Linked DNA regions of Homo sapiens: regions 1 and 2 are each linked to region 3. The links come from fine-mapping of genetic effects on gene expression. A gene starts in region 3. Each other region holds a variant in brackets. All regions are shown on one strand. Distances are from middle to middle. Region 1 overlaps CPNE5 (copine 5). Region 2 has its middle 10 kb from the start of PI16. Region 3 holds the start of C6orf89 (chromosome 6 open reading frame 89).

What was found. PIP is the estimated chance that this variant, and not a neighbour inherited with it, causes the effect.
Region 1: its variant is the best candidate, but not a certain one, in a credible set for the expression of C6orf89 in atrial appendage (GTEx, PIP 0.57).
Region 2: its variant is the best candidate, but not a certain one, in a credible set for the expression of C6orf89 in adrenal gland (GTEx, PIP 0.81).

What each region holds. Positions count from the first base shown.
Region 1 is chr6:36,808,951-36,816,529 of GRCh38, reverse strand. All of the region lies in intron 3 of CPNE5 (copine 5), which reads left to right. Among named protein-coding and RNA genes, the nearest start is that of CPNE5, 27 kb to the left of the region's middle. RefSeq lists a silencer at 5,338-5,506. The variant T/G (reference allele first, on the strand shown) is at 4,164.
Region 2 is chr6:36,941,441-36,948,076 of GRCh38, reverse strand. No RefSeq gene overlaps it. Among named protein-coding and RNA genes, the nearest start is that of PI16, 10 kb to the left of the region's middle. The variant T/C (reference allele first, on the strand shown) is at 3,350.
Region 3 is chr6:36,882,995-36,890,573 of GRCh38, reverse strand. C6orf89 (chromosome 6 open reading frame 89) reads right to left here and starts at 4,622. Exons shown (of 9, transcript NM_001286635.2): 1 at 4,546-4,622. RefSeq lists a silencer at 4,383-4,562 and an enhancer at 4,783-4,862.

The DNA of each region.
Region 1 (7,579 bases), 74 kb after region 3:
GTCAGGGGAAGTCAAGTGCAGGCACAGCACTTTCTCTGTACGTGGGGTTTGCATGAGGCTGCAGATGAGCCAATCCTGGGAGGGATGAAATCTGCTCTCGTGGCCCCTGGCTGCCGGCTTTCAGCTGGTTTTAACCATTTGGGTCATTTTTATGCCTTCTGAGAAAGCTCCATCTTCCCAGCACCTAAATCTGTCACCACATTTCATGAAAATTGACTCAAGATGTAATTTTAGCCCAGAAAATCAAGCACTGTTTGCATCAAGTCCTGCCAGGGCCTTCTGCATGTCCAGTCAAATGCATTTGTCAGATGAGGCCTGAACTTGATGTCCAAAACCCTGGGTTTTCAGACCAGCTCTGATATTTACTGACTGTGTGACCTAGGTGAGTTATTTATCTTCTCAAGTCTCAGCTTACTAATCTATAAAATGGGGCTAAGAGACCTTCGTGGGTAGACTAACTAAGGCAGGATGGCCAGGTGGGAAGAGTCCCAGAAATGCTTCCACTGGGAAGAGGGACATGATAGGGAACCCCTCTAGGTTTCCCATTTGAAAAGTGGGTATGGAGATCCCTGCCCCTCCCTCACCAGGCAGCTGTCTTGGCTGAGGGCCTCTTGGAAAAGAAATGGGAATCACAGAATCTTAGGGTGTCCAGCAGATCGCCCCATACCACTGCAGTCATTGGCCCCAGCCACCACACCCACATGTCCCTGCCAAAGCACTCAGTCTCTTTTTTGAGGAGAATTAGCCTGTTAAACTTTTCACCAGCAGCTGAAATTGATGGTTCATCTCTAAATATTCTGAATGATCTTCCTCGGGGCAACTTGACATGTGTCTTCACATAACCTCTGTGAGCATGTGTTGGGCACTGTCTTAGTCTGTTCAGGTTGCTATAACAAAAATACCATAAACTGGGTAGCTTATAACCAACAGAAATTTATTTACACAGTTCTGGAGGCCAGGAAGTCCAATATCAAGGCACCAGCAAATTCAATGTCTGGTGAGGGCCAGTTCCATCTTGCTGTGTCCTCACATGGTGGGAGGGATGAACACACTCTAAGCCCATTCATGAGGGCTCTGCCCTCCTGACCTAATCACCTCCCCAAAGCCTCACCTCTGAATAGCATCACAATGAAATAAGAATTTCAACGTGAATTTCAGAGGGACACAAACATTCAGACTACAGCAGGCACCTACTATGTGCTGGGGGATGAATGCTGGGGGTGCAAAGGGGGACCAGACACTGCCTACAACCAGAGGAGCTCACTTTCAACCCAGGGAGATGACACCAATCACAGTAATGATAATGGCAAACACATGACAGCAATGTGCAGACACTGTTCTGTTCTTTTTTTTTGTTCTTTTTTTTTTTTTTGAGACAGAGTCTTGCTATGTCGCCCAGGCTGGAGTACAATGGCACGATCACTGCTCACTGCAAACTCCACCTCCCGGGTTCAAGTGATTCTCCTGCCTCAGCCTCCTGAGTAGCTGGGATTACAGGCGTGCACCACCACGCCCGACTAATTTTCTATTTTTAGTAGAGATGGGGTTGGTTTCAGGCTGGTCTTGAACTCCTGACCTCCAGTGATCCACCTGCCTTGGCCTCCCAAAGTGCTGGGAATACAGGCGTGAGCCACCGCACCTGGCCATAGACACTGTTCTAAGTACTTTACCTGCATTAACTCAATGAATCCTCACAACAATCCTATGAAGGAGGTATTATTATTATTATTGGCCCCATTTGACAGAGGAGGAAACTGAAGCTTTTCATATCACTGTTTTCTGTCCCTTTACCAACCTGAGCACCCTCCTGGACAGCATGTGTCCCCGCCATCCCCTTCTGCAGCCCAGAGCATCATGGGCTGGCTTCCTCCACACAGGGGCTTGCCTTAGATCATCACGCTCCTCCCTGCTGGCCTCTGCATTCTGTGTCTGCTTCTGAGGATTACACATCTAGCGACACTATCTAATATGCCACTGATCTTTTGGCAGGTGTTTTTGACTTAATTCGTACTGAGTTTGGGGACTTCTGTGTCTTTCTCCATGAGTTGCTGTCCAAATAGCTTTGCCAATTTCCCTACCTCAGAGTTGGCAATGAGTTTTTGAACCTAAATCTGTGATTTCACATTTATTGCCATCATGTGTCGTTTGTTGGATTCAGTCCGTTGTTACAGTTTATGGAGACCATGTTGAATTACGATCTTGCATTCAGCATCTTGGTTATGCCTCTTGGTCCTGGGTCAGCTGTAGTCCTCACCGACACAGGTGACAAGGAATTGAATGGGATGGAGTACTGCGTTCCTCCACTAGAGATCTTTTCCCAGATTGACTTCAGTTTTTTAATTGACCTTTGGGGTAGGCCGTTCAGCCACCTATGTGCTATATTTTCCCATCTGGTCCCTAAAGACATCATGAATAACAGTCAAATGCATTTGTCAGATGAGGCCTGAACTTGATGTCCAAAACTCTGGGTTTTCATACCAGCTCTGATATTTACTAACTGTATGACCTAGGTGAGTTATTTATCTTCTCAAGTCTCAGCTTACTAATCGATAAAAAGGGGCTAAGAGACCTTTGTGGGTAGACTAACTAAGGTAATGCTTATGAAAATGCCTGGAAATATTAACCGCAATCTACCATTGACCTGGGCACTCCATCACAGTGGGAGAGGCCGCCCTTGGAGATCCTGTGAACCAAGCCAAACTTGGTGGCACTGGAGCTGAGTCTTGAGTGGTGCCATGCATCATTCTGGGGGGCAGGGTGTTGCAGGTGGAGGGAACAGCAAGTGCAAAGGCCCTGAGGTGGGAACAAGCTTACTGTATTTCAAGGACAAAAAGAAGGCTGGTGTAGTTTGAGTGGTGTGAACAATTAAGAAAGTGGACAATACGGTCACAGAGGTCATCAGGTTCAGATCCTGTAGGGCTTCAGAGGCCATATAAAGAGTTCTGATACTGATCTAAGTGTGATGCTAAGCTACTTGAGGGTTTTATTTTGTTTTGTTTGAGATGGAGTCTTGCTCCATTGCCCAGGCTGGAGTGCAATGGCTCGATCTCAGCTCACTGAAACCTCTGCCTCCCGGGTTCAAGTGATTCTCCTGCCTCACCCTCCCAAGTAGCTGGGACTACAGGCATGCGCCACCATGCCTGGCTAATTTTTGTATTTTTAGTAGAGGCAGAGTTTCACCATGTTGAGCAGGCTGGTCTTGAACTCCTGACCTCAGGTGATCCTCCCTCCTAAACCTCCCAAAATGCTGGGATTACAGGCGTGGGCCACCACACCTGGCCTATTTAAGGGTTTTAAGCAGGGGAGTGATGCAACCTGGTTTATGTTTCAGAAAGACAGCCCTGGCCACTGTGTGCAGAGTGGACTGCAGGGGAAAGGGCAGAAGCAGGAAGATAATTTGCAGTCTTGTGGAGGTTTTGGAATAAGACTGTGGTGGGCATGAACACAGGGGATCCAGTTCGTTCAATGCCAAGAGTTTAAATCTGAAAAGAAATAACCCTCTGCCTGCCTGGCCTTGAGCCCAATTTAGGATCCCTGGTGACCTGGCCTTGGTCATTCCACATAGACCATTATCTAAAGATACAAAGGAATGAGTGGACCATCAGCATTGCTAAGGCACAAAGCGGAAGGCAGGCCTCTCTAAGAGGTGGACTCCAAGGCAAGCTTGGGGTAGGCTTTCTGGACTCTCTCCTTTTTGCAGAGAAGTCTGCCTCTGCAAAGAGAGGTCCCTCCTGAGCCTTAGGTCACTTGGAAAGCCTTTAGTGGCCTTTGCTCTTGTCATGCAGCTGAATTTTCAGGGCTCTGACTCCCCGTGATCAGGGTTAGGCAGTCCAGGACCAAAGCTTTACTTTAGGGACTAGATGGGTCTATGGCCACCTACTCACAGTCTTAGGGTCAGGGCTTTAAAACCTGCTTTGACACAGTGAGGTGCTGTCTGGGATGTCCCTTTGAATCCTGACTTTGCCACTTTCCTTAACCTCTCTCTGAGCCTTAGTTTTTTTCATCAATAAAATGGGTTCCCAATGCCTGCTTAGTGGACTGTGGTAGGGACCACATGGCAGAATCACTTAGCAGTGCCTGCCTGTGCTCAGGACCTGTAAATATTCTTTTTATTATTAAACAGTACCATCAGGCAAGCTGTAAAGAGGCTCTATCCCTTTCCT[T/G]CCCCTCCTTAAATAAGAGGGTGACTGATATGCCTTCTACCCTGTACAGTCTCCACATCAGCAGCACCCCATTATCTCCCTTGGCCCTCACCACACCCAGATGAGGAAGCAGAGCTCAGAGGGATCCTGGCTTTGCCCAGCAACACAGCTAGGAAGTGGCAGAGCTGGGATGTGAATGTGGTTTTCCGAGTCGGAGTCCCTGGTCTTCTCCTCTGCCCAGGCCACTGACTTTCAAAGTGGGCTTTTCTTGTTTGTTTGTTTTTGAGACGGAGTCTCACTCTGTCGCCCAGGCTGGAGTGTGGTGACACAATCTCGGCTCACTGCAACCTCCACCTCCTGGGTCCAAGCAATTCTCCTGCCTCAGCCTCCCGAGTAACTAGGATTACAGGCATATGCCACCACCCCCAGCTAATTTTTGTATTTTTCGTAGAGATGGGGTTTCACCATGTTGGCCAGGCTGGTCTCAAATTCCTGAGCTCAGGAGATCCGCCCACCTCGGCCTCCCAAAGTGCTGGGATTACAGTCATGAGCCACTGCGCCCAGCCCAAAGTGTGCTTTTCTATCCCCAGGATTTGAGGGTGGCAGCTCCAGGATCCACCGTGAATATGTGTGTAGCCCCTGCCTCCCTTTCCTCCTTCAAGCAGAGGTGTTCATTATTTCTGTGTAATACATTAGACATGAGCCTGAGATTTCATTTGAAGAAAGGAGTTGGCTTTTCTAATAAACCCTGAGTTCTAGGCCAGGTCCCCTGGTGGCTGATAGATCTATTTGCTTTTCAGTGTTAGTGTCCAGGTGCACTCTACAGTTGTGGCTGAGCTGTTGAAAGTGTGCACTCCAAAGTCAAGTTTAAAAATGGGCCCACCACCTGCCCAGGTGGGGGATCTTGGCCAAGCACTTAGGCTCACAAGCCTACTGTGAGGAGTAAATAAGCTAATTCGTGTAAAGTGCCTGGCCTGCAGAAAAAGCTCAATAATGGCTCTTCTTATAAGAAGCCCTAAGTAAGAAACCAATGCTTTATCTGGAGGAAGGAACCATTGACAGTATCATTTCAGACATCGTGATGCCATTTGGCAGGAGCTATCGATGTTTTGGAGTGAGCTGGGGGACAAGTCCCAGGGCCCCCTCCATGATGCTTGGCTTCCTTTAGGGTGGGGACTGCTCAGGCCCCCCACCCTCTACAGTCAGACCCGGGGCTAGAAGGCTGGGGGTGGGGACAAGGTGGTGGAGAGTGTTTTGTTGGCAGCTTGGCAGCCAGGCTCATTGGTAAAGGGTCGTTCCCCGTTCCCCGAGGAGCTGGGATGATTGAACAGATTATCTGAAACAATGGCTAATTAGGAACTAAGCTTTTTGGCAGGAAGTCTTTCATTCTAAGCTTGGTAAAGTTTCATACCCTGACCCTGGTCTCTGGGCGAGATAGGGAGGCTTCTCTGACCAGGCTTGAGAACAGGGAGGCCTTTAGAGCCTGGGCTTCCCTAACTCAGGGCCCCTGTCTCCACCTCTGCCCTGCCTTACCTGGAAGCCTTAACAAAACAGGCAGCCATTTGGGAGGTCACCAGGCCTACGAAACGAAAGGTGCCAAGGTCATGGCTCACTCCCTGTAATTTTAGGCAAGCCCCATCTCTCTCTGGGCCTGGTTTTCCTCACTGCAACGAGGAGGGGTGGCCACAGAATTCTGGACTCCTTCAGTGACAGAACCAGAGAGAACTTTCCAGACCCAAGATGGTGCAGGCCTGGCATGGCCAGATCCTCCGTGCTCCTCCGCCTCCCCAGGCCCTCCTTTCCTGTCCCCAGATCTCAGGCCACTCTTCCCAGCCACTGGGCGCCCCCACCTGGCTCCTATTCCCAGGGCCAGCCTTGGAAAGCACATTCCCTTTTTCCGTTTCTATTTGAGTCAGGTAGCTTTCTGGCCTCTAATTTTAATCCTAGTGAACATGATTCATGAGGGGCCAGGGCTGGGCTCTGCAGCGAGGCTTTTAGAATCCCCAATTAAGGAGCCATCAATAATATATGAAAAGTATTGAGGGATCTACGGCTGGGGAAGGGTGAGCAGCTTGTGAGGTAGACAGCAGTCTGTCAGCTCCAGCCTCCTATCCCACCGGCACAGCCCCTGGGGGCTTTGCAGCTGGGGGATGGCTCCGAAGCTCAATCCAGCTGTAATTTGTAAAAAGGCAAGAGCTGCCTAAATCCAGGGCCATGAAGATTGTTCAGGCTTGCAGAGAGCCACCCACGCATGCCTGAGGTAGGGGCTGTGGTGAGCACCAGGGATGCTCTGCCTTTCTCACTCCTGAGAGTCCCGGCCCTTCCTCGCCCACCATGGGTTGCCTCTGGGAGGGCTTCTCTGGCCTCCAAGAGCTCCGTTCTTTCATCGGTAAAGTGGAGATGATAATAATTTCATTGTCACGGGGTCATTGGAGGGGGTTAAATGAGATCGTGGATGTATGGAAGTGTTTCAAAGTTGAGAAGTCAGGATACCAAGCAGAAGGAGGAGGAGGAGGATCGGGTGGAAGGGAGAAACCTGAGCAGGGATGTCCACAGGCTTCTGGGTGAACCAGGGCTCCACTCAGCGCTGGGAGCCCCACTGGCTGGGGTACCCGTCAGCATCCATTTCCTAATGAGCTGTGTGACCGTGGTCAGAACAGCCCCCCTCCCACCTTCTCTGCCTTTGTTTTCTCATGTGTTAATTGAGAGGATTTGGTTTCTTCCAGCTCTAAAATCAGGTCCTAAGTCAATTTGATTTTTTTTTTGGTTGTTGTTTTGGCTTTTTGTTGTTGTTGTTTGTTTTTTTGTTTTTGAGACAGCGTCGTGCTCTGTCGCCCAGGCTGGAGTGCAGTGGCACAATCACGGCTCACTGCAGCCTCAATCTCCTGGGCTCAATTGACCCTTCTGCCTCAGCCTCCCAAGTAGCTGGGACTACAGACGTGTGCTTCCATGCCTGGCTAATTTTCTTATTTTTTGTGGAGATGGGATCTCACTATGTTGCCCAGGTTGGTCTCGAACTCCTAGGTTCAAGCGATCCTCCTGCCTCCCAAAGTGCTGCCCAACTTGTTAACATTTTTAAAAGGAAATCACAGGAGGGTTGAGGACTCTTTCTCTCCTCCTCCTCTCTCTCTCTCAATCTCTCTCTCTCTCTGTCTCTCCCTTCCTCTCTCTCTCTCCTCTCTCTCTCTCTGCGTAGGGGCTGCAAGGGGAGGGATAGAGGTTGGGCAGGGTGTTAGGTCAGGGACACTCACATTATGACCTGATCTGTGGGTCCACCCAGACCCACAGGGAGTGTTAACAAGGGAGCAGGCACAGTAATCCCAGAAGTTCAGAGACTGCGCTAGGGAGTAGAGAAACTACAGGGCTGAAAACTGTCAGACCTAGTCCCAGCCTCCATTCACAGCATAAGCCTCTTACTGAATAGTGACTATATCAAC
Region 2 (6,636 bases), 58 kb before region 3:
TTTCTCTGCTCACTGGCCTGTTTCCACATCTGTACACTGGGGCTTAGAACAGAACCTACCTCCTAGGATGGTTGTGAGCATTAAATGAGTTAGTACATGGGTAGGGCCTGTGATCATCCCTGGAACATAGTAAGTGCTCATTGAGTTAGCCAGTATTCACATACAGCAGGTCCTTGAATAACGTCATTTCATTCCATGTCTTTTTGTCATGACATTGGTAAGAGAAAAATTCGATTCCTGCAGGGGCCACTGTCTGCGTGGTGTTTGCATTCTCCCCACGTCTGCGTGGGTTTTCTCCCATGTCCCAAAGCTGTGCACGCTAGGCTCATTGGTGAGTCTGCATGGTCCCAGCACGAGTGAGTGTGGGTGTGTGAGCACCATGTCCTGTCCAGGGTAGGTTCCCACCTGGCATCCTGAGCTGCCAGGATGGGCTCCAGCCACCCACGACCCTGAACTGGAATAATTGGGTAAATAATTATCTTGTTTTTCTTTCTTTCTTCTTTCTTTCTCTTTCTTTCTTTTTTCTTTCTCTCTCTCTCTCTCTCTCTTTCTTTCTTTCTTTCGAGAGAGTGTCTCGCTCTGTCACCCAGGCTGGAGTGCAGTGGCACAATCTCAGCTCACTGCAACCGCCACCTCCTGGGTTCAAGTGATTCTTGTGCCTCAGCCTCCTGAGTAGCTGGATTACAGGTGCCCACCACCACAGTCAGCTAACTTTTGTATTTTTAGTAGAGATGAGGTTTCACCAAGATGGCCAGGCCGGTCTCGAACTCCTGACCTCAGGTGATCCACCCACCTGGGCCTTGCAAAGTGCTGGGATTACAGGCGTAAGCCAGTGCACCTGGCCTAATTATCTTGTTTTTCTTAATTTTTCTTAAATGTATGTATAGCTTACATTCATTTCAGTGTTTAATATTAGAAGTGTTTTGATCTTTAGAAGTTTGGTGATGTTTTTGTCACCAGAAATATGTCACAGGAATTCTATTCATTTATATCAATTAGCCTATGGTAAAATTGGTTTTGTTTCCCTTAAAGTTGCAGTTTCCAAGAGTCTATCAGCAACTTAAGTGAGAACTTACTGTATTTGTTATTATATATCTTCCACCTGTTATATATAACAGGTGGAAAAGTTTGCATAGCCTGAGGCTATAGCAAAGAAAAAAAATACAGCAACCTGACTTGGCTTTTACCCTGGGGAGGACTGCCTTGGCCTGGGAGAGCTCCTAGGTAGAAAGGGAGGACACACCCCTCTCTGAGGGACAGGGGCACTGGTTGAGTGTTGCCAGGATGTGGGCTGGGGAGGCCTCCTGGGAAGGGCATTTGGTTGGAAGCAGAGACACCTGGCTTGCCTGAGAGGGTTGGGTGAGATGGGAATGAAGACTGGGAGGCTGACCAGAGCCAGCCAGCGCATGTGGGGACCCAGGTGTGCAGACAGAGTCCACTCTGCGTGTGCACACTTATACGTGGTTCACAGAGCTTCTCCCATTTGAGTGACCTCACCCACTCCTCACAGGATAGCTCTCCAAGGTGAGTCTCACTGTCACCCCGCATAAGGAGACTGATGCTCAGAAAGGTAAGTGATTTCCCCAGTATAGGTCGGGGAGGGTCTGGAATAGTGACAAAGTGGTGGGACCAGAGCCAGGGACCTGCCACTAGGAAAAGAGGGCAGTTAAGGCAAGCACATGGAGGAGAGAGAGGAATGGAAGAGGTGAAGTTAGGGGAGGGTGAGAGGGAGAAAGAGAAGGCAGCATCAGAGTAGACGGTGTGTTTTATCCATAAACCCAGACTTGGGGAAAATAGATTTTCTTCTGTATTATTATTTCTGTATATTTTAAATCAAGTTTTATTTTGAACAGCAGTATAACTCCATAACAAAAAAATAAGCCAAAAAGGAAAAAAAAATAATTCCATCTCTGGCATTTGCTTCTCGTCTGAGCAGGTGGTCCACAGCCACTCAAAGTGTGGTCCACGGCCCGGTGCTGGTCTGCCAGAGATTCGCCACTGTTTTTCAGCACAACAGGCCCAGAAAATGAGAGTAAATGTTTAGAAACTCTTACAGCAATTGGACATGGTTGTTTTCTGCCTGTTGAATCTATGATTTAAAAGTTGGGCTTGTATTTCATGTATCTGCTTTTCATTTCATTTTTATTATTTATTTATTTTATTATTTTTTTTTGAGACCAAGTCTCGCTCTGTCACCCAGGCTAGAGTGCAGTGTCACAATCTCTGCTCACTGCAACCTCTGCCTCCCCGGTTCAAGCAATTCTCCTGCCTCAGCCTCCCGAGTAGCTAGGATTACAGGGGTGTAACACCACGCCCAGCTAATTTTTGTATTTTTAGTAGAGACGGGGTTTCACCATGTTGGCTAGTCTGTTCTCGAACTCCTGACCTCAGGTGATCTGCACCTGCACCGTCTTAGCCTCCCAAAGAGCTGGGATTACAGGCATGAGCCACCAAGCCTGGCCTGATAACTTTTTATTTTGAAATAATAATAGACTCACAGGAAATCACGAAAAAAGTACGTAAAATCCCATGAGCTGTTTACCCAGATTCTTCCAATGATGACATCTTATATAACAATAATACAATACCCAAACCAGGAAATGGACATTCATTTTCCTAATAGGTAATGATTTTGAACATCTTTTCCTGTGTTTTCTGCAACCCACATATCCTCTTTGGTGGACTGTCTGTTCGTGTCTTCTAGTTCTATTTGGATTTTTTTTCTGTTGAGTTTTGAGAGTTCTTTATGTATTTTAGATACAAGTCCTTTGATGGATATACATTTAATCATTTATTTTTACGATATTTTACAAAACTTTACATTTGGGATGGATTGGAAATTTTATAAAATCAAACTGGTCAATCACCACTGACAGTTTGAGAAGCAATCTTAGCATCTTCTTGCCTTAATGAAACAACCGCACCTGCACCATATTGAGTCCTGACTTTTTTCCCCAGATAATTTATTATAAATAATTTCTCCAACTTGCTCCATATCTTTATAACCACCACTTACAAGGTTTGCACACCTTCCATAGAGCAGCTGTACTGAGATTTACTCAGCCAATTCCCAAGGTTAGACATGACGTTATCACCCATTTCAGGGTCTTAGAGAAACTCTGAGTCACTCACCTTTGGTCACAAGGCTTTCTCAAACATTTTGGATAGAATGTTCTTAGTTTCCATTCTCACCATTATAGTTCAACTTGCTCTTTCATTAGAATTTAGGCATCAAGGTCAGACCAGATTGCTGGTTGGCCACATTCTGTGTTCTCATGGAAACAAAAGATCAGCGGCACTGAATCCAAACCACCCGAGCAACCCGGCTTTTCCAGTCCCAGATGCTTGA[T/C]GGCACGGCAACAGTGGAGTCACTAAGAAATTTTACTTTAGTTCTATCACAGCAAACTCCAAACCAGGGGTAGCAGTCATCTGAAAAATGCAGAGACTATTTTAAAGGACAGACAAGTGCCTCAGATAGCATCAGAGAACAATGCCTAAGGTGCATGGATGGAAGCCAGTCTGCACAAAATGCTGAAAATAGGTCGTTCTGAGCAAGGGGGTCATGGAGAAGAAAGTACCAGCCCTCCATTCCTTACGCCCACTAGGCAGGTGCCTCTTCCCCTGCACCCAGGCTGACCCCTCACCTGGAAACTGACCCCTTCTCGGGTTTTCACACCTGTCTTGGACTTCCCCTTCTCCCTCCCTCCTTCCCTTTTTCTTTCTTTATTTTCTTTCTCTTTCTTTCTTTCCTTTTTTTTTTTTTTTTTTTTTTGAGATGGAGTCTCACTCTGTCACCAGGCTGCAGTGCAGTGGTGTGATCTTGGCCCACTGCAACCTCCACCTCCCGGGTTCAAGCGATTCTCCTGCCTCAGCCTCCCGAGTAGCTAGGACTACAGGCGCACATGACCATGTCCAGCTAATTTTTGTATTTTTAGTGACAGACAGGATTTCACCATGTTGGCCAGGATGGCCTCTATCTCTTGACCTCGTGATCCGCACGCCTCGGCCTCCCAAAGTGCTGGGATTACAGGCGTGAGCCACTGCGCCTGGCTCTTCTCTTTCTTTTCTTTTCCTTCCTTCCTTCCTTCCTCTTTTCTTTCTTTCTTTCTTTTTCTTTTTTTTTTTTGAGACAGAGTCTCGCTCTGTCGCCCAGGCCGGAGTGCAGGGGCGCGATCTTGGCTCCTGCAACCTCCACCTCCTGGGTTCACGCCATTCTCCTGCCTCAGCCTCTCCGAGTAGCTGGGACTACAGGCGCCAGCCACCACACCCGGCTAATTTTTTGTATTTTTAGTAGAGACGGGGTTTCACTGTGGTCTCAATCTCCTGACCTTGTGATCTGCCTGCCTCAGCCTCCCAAAGTGCTGGGATTACAGGCGTGAGCCACCGCTCCCGGCCCTTCCTTCCTTCTTTCTCTCTTTCTCTTTCTTCTTTTCCTTCCTTCCTTTCATTCTTTCCTTCTTTTTCTCCTCTTTCTCTCTCTCACTGTTTCCTTCTTTCTGTTTTCTTTTTCTCTCTTTTTTCTTTCTCTCTCTTTCTTTGGTTTGTTCTTTTTTTTTTTTTTTATTCCTGAGATGCATCCAAATTGGTATCTTTATTCTTTTCCCTTGCTATACAGTATTGCATTGTGTGACTATACTACATTCTTTAAAATTTCTTGTTGATTATACCTTTCTTCTTTAGTGCTGAAGCCAGTTCTGAATGATTACACTTTTATAAAAATTCTTGTGCAGCTCTTACTACACAAGGGCAAGAGTCTCTAGGGTATTTATCTAAATGCACAAAAGCAGAATTGTGCGGGGATAAGAGGTTATGGGCACCTTCAACTTACTAGGTGATGCGTGTTTTTCCAAATCGCACCCCTAGCCAGGAGTGTGTGAAGTGAGTTCTCATTGCTCCATATCCTTAGCAACACTTGTTATTGCCATTTTTTCTAACTTCTGATGACCTGGTGGTTACAAAATGATTGAATTGTAAATTTCAGTGATTTGTTTCTAGGCATACCTTTAGTAACTTTAAATATTTTTTTCAAAGTCTTTCTCTCTAGTTTTAAACAGTTCTCTTTATTTTTAAATTGTCCTAGGCTTACTTTTATATTGTTTTTTTAGATTTTGTTTTATCTGAAATTCTTGGTTTTAGCCATCCTATTGTGTCTATTAATTCTCATACTAGAGGATATCCTTTTGTGTTTTATAATTTTTTATTGCCTGCTTATTTCGGTGGTATTGTATCTGATAGAATCCTCTGTAGCCAAAGGTGCTATGTGGTTTGTGTTTCATTTTGTTTTTGAGACGAGATTTCACTCTGTTACCCAGGCTAGAGTACAGGGGTGTGATCATGGCTCACTGCAGCCTTCAACTCCTGGGCTCAGCCTCCCAGTTAGGCAGGATTAGAGACATTCATCATTATGCCCAGCTAATTTTTTAAAAAAAAATTATAGAGATGGGGTTTTGCTATGTTGCCCAGGCTGGTCTTGAACTTCTGGGCTCAAGTTACCCTCCTGCCTCAGCCTCCCAAAGTGTGGGATTACAGGCATGAGTCACCATGCTGGGACTAGTGCTATGTTCTTTCTCTAGGGTGTTTTTTCTTTTTCTTTTTTTTCTTTTTTTAATTGATCATTCTTGGGTGTTTCTCGCAGAGGGGGATTTGGCAGGGTCATAGGACAATAGTGGAGGGAAGGTCAGCAGATAAACAAGTGAACAAAGGTCTCTGGTTTTCCTAGGCAGAGGACCCTGGGGTCTTCCGCAGTGTTTGTGTCCCTGGGTACTTGAGATTAGGGAGTGGTGATGACTCTTAACGAGCATGCTGCCTTCAAGCATCTGTTTAACAAAGCACATCTTGCACCGCCCTTAATCCATTTAACCCTGAGTGGACACAGCACATGTTTCAGAGAGCACCGGGTTGGGGGTAAGGTCATAGATCAACAGCATCCCAAGGCAGAAGAATTTTTCTTAGTACAGAACAAAATGGAGTCTCCCATGTCTACTTCTTTCTACACAGACACAGTAACAACCTGATCTCTCTTTCTTTTCCCCACATTTCCCCCTTTTCTATTCGACAAAACCACCATTGTCATCATGGCCCGTTCTCAATGAGCTGTTGGGTACACCTCCCAGAAGGGGTGGCGGCGGGGCAGAGGGGCTCCTCACTTCCCAGAAGGGGCGGCCGGGCAGAGGCGCCCCCCACCTCCCGGATGGGGCGGCGGCCGGGCGGAGGCGCCCCCCACCTCCCGGACGGGGCGGCTGGCCGGGCGGTGGCTGCCCCCCACCTCCCTCCCGGACGGGGCGGCTGGCCGGGCGGAGACGCTCCTCACTTCCCAGACGGGGCGGCTGCCGGGCGGAGGGGCTCCTCACTTCTCAGACGGGGCGGCTGCCGGGCAGAGACGCTCCTCACCTCCCAGACGGGGTCGTGGCTGGGCAGAGGCGCTCCTCACATCCCAGACTGGGCGGCGGGGCAGAGGCGCTCCCCACATCTCAGACAATGGGCGGCCGGGCAGAGACGCTCCTCACTTCCTAGACGGGATGGCGGCTGGGAAGAGGCGCTCCTCACTTCCCAGACTGGGCAGCCAGGCAGAGGGGCTCCTCACATCCCAGACGATGGGTGGCCAGGCAGAGATGCTCCTCACTTCCCAGACGGGGT
Region 3 (7,579 bases):
CAACAGACTGAGACTCTGTGTCAAAAGAATAAAATTTTTTTTTTAAATGTAGTATATACATACAATGGAATATTATTCAGCCTTAAAAAAGAAAGAAATCCTGCTATTTGTAACAATACGGATGGACCTGGAGGACATTATGCTAAGTGAAATAAGCCAGACACAGAAAGATAAATACTACATGATACCACTTGTGCGATTAATCTAAAATAGCTAAACTCATAGAAGCAAAGAACAGAATGGTGGTTGCAGGAGGCTGCAGGCAGGGGGAAACAGGGAGGTACTGGGCAAAGAATACAAAGTTTCAGTTATACAAGATGAATAACTCCTAGAGACCTACTATACAGCACAGTGCCCAGAGTTAACAATACTGTATTGTATATTTAAAAATATGCTAAGAAGGTAGGTCTTATGTTAAGTGTTCTTATTGCTAATAGTAATAATAAGTAAGAAGGCAGGAGGAAACTTGAAGGTGATGGATAGGTTGATGGCATGGATCATGGTGATGGTTTCACAAGGGCATACTTATGTCCAAATTCATCAAGCTGTACACATTAAATGTGTAAAGCTTTTTGTACAAAAATAGTACAATGAACACCTGGATATCCTTCATTTAGATTTACCAGTTGTTTACATTTGGCTATATTTTCTTTCTGTTTTTACCAGAACTACTTGAAAGTTATTTGCAACACATTATAAAATCATTTCTAAATATTTCAACATGCATCTCCTAAGAATAACGACGTTATTCTACACACAACCATTGGCATTATTGCCATACCCATTAAAATGAGTAATCTCTTAATATTACCTAATATTCAGTCTATAGTCAAGTTTCCTTAACTATCAAATTTTTTTAAAAAGATCATATAGCTATTTAAAAATCCAGGATCCAACCAATGACCACACATTGAATTTGGCTGCCATGCCTCTCTTTAATCTACTTAACTTCAGAACAAGTCCCCAGTGTGTGGTTTTTCTTTTTTTTTTTGTTTTTGTTTTTTGGTCTTTTAGGACATTGACATACTTGAAGAAGTCTTCACATTTTTAAGCTTACCTCTACTTGCTTCCATCCTCACCCTTTCCAGTTTCTACTATCAGAAAAATGCCATAATAGTTCCTTTCTAAGTTTCTGGTACTCTCTCCCTCCCTCCCTTCAGAGGAAAGCTCCTTTGGGGGTTGGGGGGAGAAAGTAACACACTTTCTTGTTTCTCAGGTTTCCATTCATTTATTAACCTGTTGAAATCATATTTCTGCCTCCTCACTCCACCGACATTGCTTTCACTGAGGCCACAAATGGCTTTCTAAACGCCAAGTTCGAAGGACGTTTTTTTCAGTTATTACCTTATCTGACCTCTCTGCAGCAGCTGCTGTTGCTACCCCATTATCTATCTCCCTCAAGTGTACTCAAACCTTAACATAATTCTCTCGTTCTCTGCTGGTATCCACCAGTTATCCTTGACCTTCTTATTCCCTCCAACACTTTGACCACCAGCTATTGGTGATTCCCAAATCTCTTCTCCAGTCTACAACTCTCTCTAGGGTTCAAGACCCATTTATCTACCTGCCTACCAGACACGGTGATCCAAGTTTCCCATAGCTCCCTGTATGTAATGTGTCTATAACCCAACTTACTGTTTTCCCCTTCAACTCATTCCTCCCACTGCACCTCTTTTCTTAATGGAAACACTAATCCTCCAAATTTAAAAACTATTCTCCTCCTACCTCACTCCCACCAATGAAACTATCACTAAGTCCTCTTGATTCAGCCTCCTATATAATTCTCACATTCATCCCTTCCTCTCTACATTAACAGCACAGTTAAGGTCTTCAACATCTCTCCTATGGACCATCACAAAGATGTAGTTAATCTCTATACTTCCAGTTCTCCTCTTCCCCAATCCATTCTCTACCTTGTCCAGTTTTTTATTTTTATTTTCTGAGACAGGGTCTCACTCTTCGCTCAGGCTGGAGTGCAGTGACATGATCTCAGCTCACTGCAACCTCTGTCTCCTGGCTTCAAGAGATTCTCGTGCCTCAGCCTCTGGAGTAGCTGGGAGTACAGGCACGCGCCACCACACTCAGCTAATTTTTGTATTTTTCTGGTAAAAAATGGGTTTCACCATGTTGGCCAGGCTGGTCTTGAACTCCTGACCTCAAGTGATCCACCCACCTTAGCCTCCCAAAGTGCTAGGATTACAAGCGTGAGCCGCTGCACTCGGCCACTTATTTTTTTGAAACACAAATTGGCTCATGCTAAGCACCTTCCAAGACTCCCCATCCTCTGCAGGAGCAGTTTAGCATGGTGACTAAGAACACAGATACTGGAGTTGGAAAAAGCTGGATGCAAATTCTAGATTTTACCACTTACTGTGTGGCCATGAGACACTACTCATCCTCTCTAAGCCTCAGTTTTCATGTATAAAATGGGGATAATTATTTCTACCCCACAATGTTTTATTTCAGAGAATTATAAAATGATGTAACACATTTGTTCCAATAGCCAGACAAATTAAATACCTAATAACAATCATTTTAAGATAAAGTCCTAAGTCAAGCATGGTGGTTCATGCCTGTAATCCCAACACTGGGAGGCTGAGGTGGGAGGACTGCTTGAGCCCAGGACTTCCAAGACCAGCCTGGGTAACATAGCAAGACCCTGTATCTACAAAAAAAATAAAAATAAAAATTGGCCGAGTGTGGTGGTGCCTGCCTGTAGTCCCAGCTACTTGGGAAGCAGAGGTGAGGGGTAGCTTGAGCCCAGGAGTTCGAGGCTGCAGTGAACCGTAATAGCACCACTGTACTCCAACCTGGGTGATGGAATGAGATTCCTGTCTTTTTTAAAAGATAAAGTCCAAATTACTTACCATGGCCCTTTATGATCTGGTCACTGCCTACCTGTTCAGTTTCATTTCCCATCAATCCTTCTTCACATTCTACACTGTCATACTATTTCACATCTTTTTGCTTTTGCATACACAATTTCCTCTGCCTAAAAAGCCTAGTCTCCAGTGCTTTGTCCAATAAGTGAACTCTTTAAGACTCTGACCTCAGTTTTTGTCCTATGCACCTCTAGGGCTTGGCATTACATCTATTTTCCTGTCTACCTCCCACCCTAAATAGTGTTTCTTGAAAGCAGAGATAAATGGAGAAAACACAAAAAACTAAGAACAGACGTGGGAATTCACCTCAGATGTGGAATCAGATCAATGTTGAACAAATTTATAGAAAGGACCTAAAATTATCATTCCGAACTAATTGAATGTAACTCGTGGCTCATGGTTTATTCATTTTATGTTTTATTATTTTATTCATTTTTAAAAATGCAGAGGTCGGGAGCCTGAGGCAGGAGAATGGTGTGAACCGGGGAGGCGGAGCTTGCAGTGAGCAGAGATCACGCCACTGCACTCCAGCCTGGGCGACAGTGTGAGACTCCGTCTCAAAAAAAAAAAAACAAAAAAACGCAGAGGTAGCAACAATGTGATGAGGGTTTAAGGTTAGCAGGTTAGGAATCTAGCATTTGGACATTGTTTCTGGTGTGTGGAGTAGCTGTGGAGGAACAGGTATTCAAAGCAGGTCTTGAAAAATGCCTCAGTCCAAGGCAGAAAAGGTCTGACAGAAACAGGACCTCTTTCTGGTATGCAAGTTGGGCTACATGAACCTTTAGTCAAAACTTCAATGTAGCAGAATTGAATTTATTAGTTATTATTTTAAAGGCATGTTATTCCCTAGAGGGAAATTTTGACAACCCAAATTCAAATGAACGAATTTATTAAGGGAGAGACGTCTATAGAAGATCCCACCACAGGAACTACCAAATGAGCCATCAGAAAAGTCAGAATACTAAGTATCTGGAAGTAGTCTCTATTATAAAGTGATTTATGACTAAATACTTTAAAAGAAACATATTTGCGAATACAAAGGCTATGAGGGCTCTGAGACTAGAAAGTGTGGCCTGCACGGTTAACAGTCTTAAAATACTACAAAACACGACGCAGGCAAATTTCCTTCTACTAAGAGGTGATTACAAACAACTATTTTACTTGTGTCAAGAAACCAAGTCATATTTCTTTCTGAAATCCAAGATGCCAGGTTTATCACATACCAAGTACACATTTAAAGAAAAAAAATTATTGCCCCCTAACGATTATTAGAAAAAGATCTTTCAGAAGGGGGTGGGGAATCTACTCTTAATTTCTTAAAAATTCCGTCAAAAGGGCAGAAATCTGGACTTCATTAGCAACGCTCAAGTTATGGACACTGCTGTGATGCCTGAGAACCAAGTTCAAGCAAGGTCCACCTCGTTTTGCTCTCCCCGGCGGAGTCAAAGAAAGTGACAGATGTCTTAAGGGAGTCGACCCCGGGGGAGCTGCCAGGGGATGCTGTCAGTCTACAAAACTGGAGAGACTGAGAAAAGGGATCCGCGCTGGGATAGAGGGTGGTAGCAGCGGCGAGAAGCGGCTGCGCGAGGATGTCAGAGACGGGCGCGGCGAGGCTGTCACAGGGCGGCCTCCCCCCACCCAGCCTCGGGCCCCAGTCACTCACATGCGGGGCTCGCGCCCCTCGGGCTCCTCCCGCCTCGGGGACAGCTGCCGCCGGGCGAGGAGGATGGGCAACTTCCTGTTTCCGGGAGCGCGACCCGGAAGCAACCCCCCACTCCTGGGCGAGGCCTTGTACCCTAGAGTAATTCCTCCTCTCGTCCAGCGCTTCCGCCCAAAACAGAACACTCAGTGTCGTGGCGAGCGCGGGACCTCTCGCGATATCTGGAGAGTGTAGGTTCTTGCTCCCCCTGGCGTCCTTCTTCCGTTCTGGCTCTTTTCGCCCCAGTCCTAAATCCTTGTCTTCCTAATTTACCTGGACTGGCTCACACAGACTTCATAGCTGAACTGATCCATAGAACAAGCATTTACTGAGTCCCCTACTATGTGCCAGGCAGCATGTTAGGCATTAAGGGATGGGAGTGGAAGGGAAATGTAAATGAAGAGCAGCCCCTTCCTTCTGGAAGCTACTACTCTTGAGAAAGACGAACAAATCCCTCCAGTTTTCACTCAGCCCACTCATTAGTGAGAGCTTACTCTGTTGATAAAAGAAAAACTTAAGCCGAATTAAGTATAAAGGAGTTTAATTGAGCAATGGAAGATTCACGAATCAGGCAACCCCCAGAATCACAGCAGATTCACAGACTCCCAGGGTGCCTCATGGTCAGAACAAATTTATAGATAAAAAAGGCAAAGTGAGGCACAGGAATCGGAAGTAAGGTACAGAAACAGTGAGGTTGGTTACAGCTCGGTGTTTGCCTGATTTGAACGCAGATTGAACATTCAGCAGGCTGTGAGTGGTTGAAGTATGGCCGCTGGGATTGGCCACCACTCAGTTATTGTTACAGGTGTATACTATTAAGTTAGGTTTTCAATTTTGTTTGACTATTAAGCTATGTTACAGTTCATCCACAAGGACTCAAATATAGAAGGACAGAGTCCTTCTCAGGCCATATTTAGTTTGCCTTAACAATTCCCCCGTTTTGGTCATTTTCTCAATTTTGAGAGATTGACCAAAACCTTGGTCATTGATGTTATTATCGCTGTCATAAGTGTACCTGTATGGTTTTGAAACTCACTAGGAAACAGTAGAACAGTGGGTTTTGCAGGAAGAGAATAAGGGCTGAGTAGAGGATACCTCCTTATTCTGAAACATCTGTTTACAGGAGAAAAAACCTGGTCTGTTCTAGCATTTTGTGTTTTTTTAAAGCCTTGGTTTGATTATGTCACATTTAGCATGAGTGACTCCATTTTAGTTTGGTTTGGTTTGTTGGTGCCTAGTGCATGAGCTCAGTCCAAAATAATGGCCTCCCATGATTTTGTTTAAAAAAAAATTCCTCACTTTTGGCCAGGTTCTTACTTAGGTGACAGCGTGACCAGAACTTAGGGCCTTAGCGCCACTCTCAGTTACATCATTTTGGGTTTCTGGTCTCAGCATGTCATTCATAGGTTACGGTGCCTTCATGGTCACACATTTCTTTCAGTTTTTGTTATTCCAGTTGAAAAGAGATCATTTGACGTTGTAGAGATGGCTGCATGCAAGCATTTAAAATCTTTGAGAGAATACAGTGCACCAGGGAGACTATTATTATCATTATCGGGCGGATAATAGCAAGAGTTTGGAGTATGCTCCTTACCCAGGGTCCCCATAAGCCAAACCACCTAAAATTAAATAGATTGAAGAATGAGTTAGATGAAGAGTCTCCTTGCTTGACTAAGTGGTCTTTTCACTAATCCCCTACAACTGGATATTTATTTTTATTGTATTTATTTTGTGAGAGGGAGTCTTGCTCTGTCACCAAGGCTGGAATGCAGCGGCGATCTCAGCTCACTACAACCTCCACCTCCTAGGTTCAAGTGACTCTCCCGCCTCAGCCTATTGAGTAGCTGAGATTACAGGCACCTGCCACCACGCCAGGCTAATTTTCATATTTTTAGTAGAGACAGGGTTTTGCCATGTTGGCCAGGCTGCTCTCAAACTCCTGACCTCAGGGGATCCGCCTACCTCTGCCTCCCAAAGTGCTGAGGTTACGGGTGTCAGCCATCACGCCCGGCCAGAATTGTTTATAATTTACATTTGCTGTATTTCTCCATAGGCCACAGGTGTCAACAGCTGCACAGGTACTTTTCTGTTTAGCCAATTCTATTACTTAGTATAATTTTCAAAGGAGAATTTAAAGTCTGTTGTGTAACGATAGCCTTTAAAGTAGAATTTGCTGTAGAGCCTATTATGAGGGAGACATTTCAAATTATTGCCTCTTTTATTCTAAACCATGGAAAAAGGACCTAACAAATGGATGTCTTTCTAGAAGAGTGAAGGCCTCTTGTCAATGTTCTCTTTAATCCATGATGTGGGTTAAGAGGAGTTTTGACTGATTATGAGGCAATGTATGTACCACTAAAGTTTGTTACCTACATTGGGCCTTCATCTTTTATCTATTGAAATATAAGGTTATTCATGTTTAAGGCTGGCTGCAAAATCCTTCACAAATAAAAGTATACCCTATAAGTGCATATAATAGACCCACTTTTAATTTCTATTGTTCATAGAGGCATAAACAAGGAAAAAATATTCAAAGATAAGAGTCTTGTGATAGTAGAAGTTTTGATCTATGATCTTGGGAAAAGCTATTCTAATCAAGGATGCCATCTTCTGGGGAGAAACTTTTCTGGTTAGTTTTACCTTAAGGGTTCCAATGGATGTACAGTTCCAGGAGTGTGGAGGGACCCTTCTCAGCTGTGAGATTATGAACCCAAGGTTTAAAGCTCCAAAGTTTTGCTGTAGTGTGGATGGCAAGGACAGTCTTTCTCTTTCTCTGGTGTTCTCAGACGATCCAATCTGCAGGTTCTAGATTGTGAAGGGATTGTCCTCAGTGAATCATAAAAAGTTTTCTTTGTCTGGTGAAAATACACTATAATCTACTGTTATAACATCAGCCCTATTGCATGGGAAAGCTTTTATACAACCAGAAAACATGCATTGAAAATGACAATTCAGGCCGGGCGCGGTGGCTCACGCCTGTAATCCCAGCACTTTGGGA